Homo sapiens: one gene and its partner. Changing the gene in region 2 together with the main gene of any one other region gives a genetic interaction. Each region holds a gene or a part of one and is shown on either strand. Other genes may lie near its edges.

Region 1 (3,500 bases), on a different chromosome or scaffold from region 2:
GAGAACCATACTACCAGCTGGATATCTACAGCCTAAGGTCTGCTGGTTCTAAAGCAGAAGACACTCTGTTTTCTTTTTTTTTTCCCTGAGACAGAGTCTCGCTCTGTCACTGCAGTGGCGTGATCTCGGCTCACTGCAAGCTCCGCCTCCAGGGTTCAAGCGATTTTCCACCCCACCCTCCCAAGTAGCTGGGAGTACAGGCGCTTGCTACCATGCCTAGCTATTTTTTTTTGTATTTTAGTAGAGATGGGGTTTCACCATGTTGGCCAGGCTGGTCTCGAACTCTTGACCTCAGGTGATCTGCCAGCCTCGGCCTCCCAAAGTGCTGGGATTACAGGTGTGAGCCACCGCGCCCTGCCAACACTCTATTTTCAATCCTATCCAAAGTATTCTGAGGTTTTGATCCCAAACTCTTGAGATTAATACTCAGTAATTTGTATTCCTGGCTTTCCTCAAACATTATCCCCACATCATGGACCTATTACTACTATATTACTCTATACCAGCACTTTGAATACCCTTACTTCCACCATCCAACCTGGTCTCCTTCTCATGGAATGCAGTCTCTGCCTTCTCAAAACAGCACCTAACATATAGACTCGAATACTGCTTTGATGACTTTGAAGGAGCAGAAAAACAATACATGAGTTACAAGTTAGGCAGTGATTTGTTTCAGCATATTTTAAAAAGAGGCTAATGAGATTTGTGTTGTGCACACAGTAGGCACTCATGTATATTTTAATAGGTATTTCAAACAGGGCTCATTGTGCCAATAGTAAGCAAAGAGATGTTTTTTCCATATGGCACAAACATTCACCTAAGAAAGCTAAAATACAGTCGCTTACAGGTTAATAAAATTAATGTACTTACCTTGTTATTTTCTCTCCCAAGCCTCTGGGTCCAACTAAAATCTCTTGCCTTTTGTATATGTGGCTAAGCAATATTCTGCTTAGAATAAACCTTTTGGCTAACTAGCTATCTCTGTAGTTTTACTTCCCATTTCTTTAGCACCTTTCCTTTAGTACATTTTCAAAACAGGGCTTGATTTTTCAATGAGATTCTATTGCTATCATATGTTCTAACCCAGCATGTGACTTCTATCCTAATTCCCCAAAATATTTCAAACATTTACATGGCTCAACAAATAATTCTCACTAGATTTCCTCTGTTATTTGGACTTTTCAGTTTGAATATATTTGTATTAGTTAGATAACTTTTCATTATTCTTAAAAATAACTTTCACTGTTTGCTCTTCAAATTCATTTCAATCCCTAGAATCTCTTTTTAATTCACCAAAATTCATGTTATGGTTCATTATCATGACCTTGGCTAGATTTACTGTCTACATAAACATATGTGTAACATAAATATAAATACACAAACTTTCTTAAAGATTCTTTACAATTAAGACTCTAAATTAAATTATCTGTCAAATAATTTTCTATTTTCTGCTCACTGTAGTAATTAACTAGAGTCGTTTTTGCCCCAGTCTTAAAATACTTCTCTAATCCACTATTTTTCTTCCTATTCAACAAGCTGCCTTAACCATAACTCTTACCGTACTTGCAATAATACATCTTTCCCCGAAAATATGTTCTTTCCAACTCATTTTCTTCATTTTCTCTAAGAGGTTATTGTTTTTAAATTGTTATAAAATTAATAACAACAACAATGAAAAAGCCAAATCCTTTTTTTTTTTTTTCCAAATTTCACTCTCACCCTTCAATTCCTTTTCTTTCTGTTTTACTCAGGCACAATTTCTAGGACATCCTTCCTCTGGTCTCATTCACTTCTGCTCAAACTCTTTCACTTTTTCTTTATATCTTCCAACCCCTTCCTAACCATTATCTCTTCCATAATTTGACCTCAACATATCTTTTCAACTATTTCTTCCGTAAGTCATCCTAAGTTAGCCCCTACTCCAAACTGGTCCTTCACTGTTCTCCAAATATGGTGGGCTCTCTCCAGCCCTCCAGCCCCCATAGCTTGGCACTCACTCTCCTCCCCTTCTACAGTGCTTTTCCTAACCTCTTCAAGAAACCCAACCTGTGGCTGTCCTCTACAAGTTGTTGGACAGAGCTATGGATATTCTACTTTTATTCTTCGGCTTCCTCCAACCCCCATCTTTCCTGTTTTGCTGTCATTCTCCTCTATGCACTCCAAAGATGTCCTCTTATTGCAAACCACAGACAATCCTTTTCCTGCTTGATGATTTATATGCTGCTTTAATTCCAAACTTTCCATTATTCTTTCTTTATCATGGCGTTTATCTTAGTTTGATTCATGCTGCCTTTGAGAAGGAACTATTCTTTGATTATTTCTTTTGCCCTGTTTCTCCATGAGCATCCTTCAGGCCTACAACAAGTGGACAAATCTTTCACATGAAATATTTAGGCTACATTTTTAATTCTATACCCTTTTTTCCTGGGCCAATAATAGAATGGTCTCCATAAAGGACAGCCATTCCTTTGCTGAATGGAGGAAAAGATTCCTCCTCTATTCAAATGCAGCCCTGCTGACTAATTAAAGAAATATGTCAAAACAGCTCCCAAGAAGAACCCATATGTCATCCAAAGAATTAAATGTTTTGAAAATAAGAAGAACCACTTGGTCCATTTTTCAATAGAGACTGAGAACAAATGAAAAGAAAGAGATGAATCAGAATTCAAGATGAAATAAATATAGAAATCTCTAGCTAAATGTAAGGAGAAAATATTTAAGCCTAGGCCTCTGGTAAGGCAAAAGGCCATTATGTATGTGCCTAAGGGTTTTACCACCTTTGTAACATTTGCCACTAGCTTTTGATCAAAGCTGAGCCCTCAAAAGGGAAAATGAGACATAAAAAGGTCAGGGAATAAGAATGGTAGGGAATGGATAGAAGGCTTTGGCATGATACAAAAAATTCTTTAATATGGTATGCTTCAAAAACAGTGGGAAAAAAAGAAAAAAAAAACAGCATGCACTTGAAGATGTCAATGCTTTGTGGGAGTGGATTTACTAAACTATAAGGCACTATTCCAATGTAGGCTATTTATTATTACTCAACAGACGTGCAATTATGTCTCACCCTCTCCTGAGTGACAAAGGGTATTAACTGTGTCCCACCACCTCTCCCAAACCTACAATGACAAAAGTAGTTAGAGAAAAACAGAACATTGGGATGGAAGGGCTTATTTCTTCTCTTAAATCCACGTTGCCCACTTGGTAACTGAGCTCCTGTACACCAAAGTAGTAGAAATGAGAGGCAGAAGCAGAATGCTGTCTCAACTTGGCTGTCTGCCTTCAAGAATTAAATAAAAATACGTGTTTATAGAAGTGGAACAGCTGCTTCAGCTAGTTTGGATACCCACTTTTGAGTCCTCAGGATGTTCTATTTTTCTAAGTCCACTACTCCTATAGTCTCTGAAAAGTATCAGACTAAAGAGTAAAGATACATAGATGGTTTGGGTCTTAGGTCTCCTGGAGACAACAGAATTACTTCCTCTTTCAAAACCTGGCAT
Region 2 (2,904 bases):
CTTTATAATTTACATATTATATTATTTTCCAGATATCGAATATTTTATATATATATATATATCTTTTTGAGACAGGGTCTGGCTCTGTTGTGCAAGCTGGGGTGCGGTGGCACCATTGTAGCTCAATGCAGCCTACAAGTCCTGGGCTCAAATGATCCTTCCCCCTCAGCCTCCCAGGTAGTCAGGACTACAGGTGCGCACCACCATGCTTGGCTAATTCTTTAAGATTTTTTACAGAGGTGGGATCTCGCTTCTTTTTTCTTTTTTTTTTTGCCTAGGTTGGTCTTGAACTCCTGGCCTCAAATGATCCTCCCACCTCAGCCTCCCAAAGTGCTGGGATTACAGGCATGTGCCACCGCGCCCAACCCTCAAATATTGTATTGTAAAAGACAATGAAAAGCATACAAAACAAAAATGATCAGTGAGAAGCTAGGTGGCGTCAAATGCCCGGGCAAAAAGGGGTTAGGTCTGCAGCGCTATACTCAGATGTAACTTACAGATGCAACTAGCGGAAACAGCATTAAATTTGTTAACTCAATGCTTGGTGGCCAGAAATTCATGTCAGGATAATTCATTTGAGCACAGACTAAAGGGTTTGGACTTGTAGTTATAGTCCAAGTTTCTCAAACTTGCTGGGTTTTATGAATCATCTGACACTTTAGTTAATAATACAGATTTCCAGGCGACTCCCTTATAGATCCCTTTTCTGTGGGCCTAGGAAGCAGCCAATCAGTATTTCATGGGTTCGGTGCCACCTATCCCAACTTGACAATGAGAGATCGCTCTGCATGCCAGGTGAAGGACCTGACGCTGGCGGGCGGCGGGGACTACCAGGTCAGCCCCAGGAGAGCCGGCTCCGGCAAGCTCCCCCAAGGCATGGCAGGAGCCCAGTGCAAGTTAGCACAGTAAACCCAATCAACAAGCCGCAGTCACCCCTCTTCCCCAGAAATGGCCTCTTCAGCTCTTGCGGGGGAGACTCTGAAAGTCCCCAAAGGACAGAAGTCTAGGAGGAAATGATTGCCGCAGAAAGGGATACAGTCTTGGCTACTAAAAACCGCGCGGAACCGCCTAGGGACCCGCTCCCAACCACCCACCTCCGGTGCTTCTACCCCCTCCCTCGCAAACGCGAAGAAAAGAAGAAACGCGAGATCCCAGTGCAGAGGCGTGGTCCCACCCTGGCCAATGGGAAGTGAGGGCGTGACTTTAAGTCTTTCTTTCATTGGCCCAGGGTCCCAGGCCGTCCAGGTCTTGGGGCGCCGCGGCGGAAATCGCGCGGATGCCAGAACGCGCTCTCAGCTTCGGGTCCTGCGGCTGCGGCTGCCGCCATCATGGTGCGGAAGCTTAAGTTCCACGAGCAGAAGCTGCTGAAGCAGGTGGACTTCCTGAACTGGGAGGTCACCGACCACAACCTGCACGAGCTGCGCGTGCTGCGGCGTTACCGGCTGCAGCGGCGGGAGGACTACACGCGCTACAACCAGCTGAGCCGTGCCGTGCGTGAGCTGGCGCGGCGCCTGCGCGACCTGCCCGAACGCGACCAGTTCCGCGTGCGCGCTTCGGCCGCGCTGCTGGACAAGCTGTATGCTCTCGGCTTGGTGCCCACGCGCGGTTCGCTGGAGCTCTGCGACTTCGTCACGGCCTCGTCCTTCTGCCGCCGCCGCCTCCCCACCGTGCTCCTCAAGCTGCGCATGGCGCAGCACCTTCAGGCTGCCGTGGCCTTTGTGGAGCAAGGGCACGTACGCGTGGGCCCTGACGTGGTTACCGACCCCGCCTTCCTTGTCACGCGCAGCATGGAGGACTTTGTCACTTGGGTGGACTCGTCCAAGATCAAGCGGCACGTGCTAGAGTACAATGAGGAGCGCGATGACTTCGATCTGGAAGCCTAGCGGATCTCCCACTTTGCATGGCTGTCTTTTACAGATGGGAAAACTGAGGCCTGATGCTGGAGATTCTATGAGGGTGCTCTCCTCAAGGGTATCAGACGGTCGTAGGTTCTTAAGAATTTGATTCATCAGTGGCAGGCCATGCATAGAGCCACGGGAGGTGCGTCCTTGTTTTCCAGGGAATGTTCTTAGAACTTGGACTACTGATTATTAATTGACTGTGCCTTGGGAAACAGTGGGAAGTAACTTGGTGCAGCACTGGGGTATTGTTGGCTTCTTGTGTTGGAAACTTTGTAATGTAAAAGGAAAAACTGGAAATCCCCACGCCCTGTTTCCCTTTATCGTCTTGTGGTTGGACTGGTTCAATTCGTTTAACTCGAATTCTTGCTCCTGGCCGTGGTTAAGCTGTGTACAGATGATGGAGAGTTTGGCCTCAAGTTTTTATAAACTGAGCGAGACTAGTGTTCAGGATCTCCTCCCTTGTTTAAATGTCAATAAATGCCCCAACTGCTTTGTAAGTGCAACTTTTTAATCTGTCTGGTTTTCTTTTTTTCTCTAGAGACGGAGTCTTGCTCTGTCACCCAGGCTGGAGTGCAGTGGCGCGATCTCGGCTCACTGCAACCTCCGCCTCCCGGGTTCAAGCAATTTTCCTGCCTCAGCCTCCCGAGTAGCTAGGAGTATAGGCGCCCGCCACCGCGCCCGGCTAATTTTTGTGGTTTTAGTAGAGTCAGGGTTTCACCATGTTGGCCAGGCTGGTCTGGAACTCCTGAACTCGTGATCCGCCCGCCTCGGCCTCCCAAAGTGCTGGGATTACAGGCATGAGCAAACTGCGCCCAGCCTCTGGTTTTCTTACATAGAGTCATATTTATACGTCCCAGGAGCCCAGAGAAGAATAGAGTCAGCAGCGAGTGACCTGCCTGTGGATTAGATGTGCAACAGGGCCACATGTGGAGGATGCAGGATGTTGTACAGGATTGGGCAAATTTGTCACTTTACCAGTCCCTTCCTTGGAATGAGTGTTTTG

Evidence for each region. A genetic interaction does not mean that the proteins touch.
Region 1: of IMP3 (region 2) and ATG10, changing one suppresses a phenotype caused by changing the other (phenotypic suppression), as found in Homo sapiens cells (one large-scale study listed by BioGRID).

What each region holds. Positions count from the first base shown.
Region 1 is NC_000005.10:82,167,523-82,171,022, reverse strand, and holds part of ATG10 (ubiquitin-like-conjugating enzyme ATG10), read right to left. Parts: intron 1-3,500. UniProt on the Homo sapiens protein: E2-like enzyme involved in autophagy. Acts as an E2-like enzyme that catalyzes the conjugation of ATG12 to ATG5. ATG12 conjugation to ATG5 is required for autophagy. Likely serves as an ATG5-recognition molecule. Not involved in ATG12 conjugation to ATG3.
Region 2 is NC_000015.10:75,638,593-75,641,496, reverse strand, and holds IMP3 (U3 small nucleolar ribonucleoprotein protein IMP3), read left to right. Parts: upstream 1-1,272; 5' UTR 1,273-1,328; coding exon 1,329-1,883; 3' UTR 1,884-2,404; downstream 2,405-2,904. UniProt on the Homo sapiens protein: Component of the 60-80S U3 small nucleolar ribonucleoprotein (U3 snoRNP). Required for the early cleavages during pre-18S ribosomal RNA processing. Part of the small subunit (SSU) processome, first precursor of the small eukaryotic ribosomal subunit.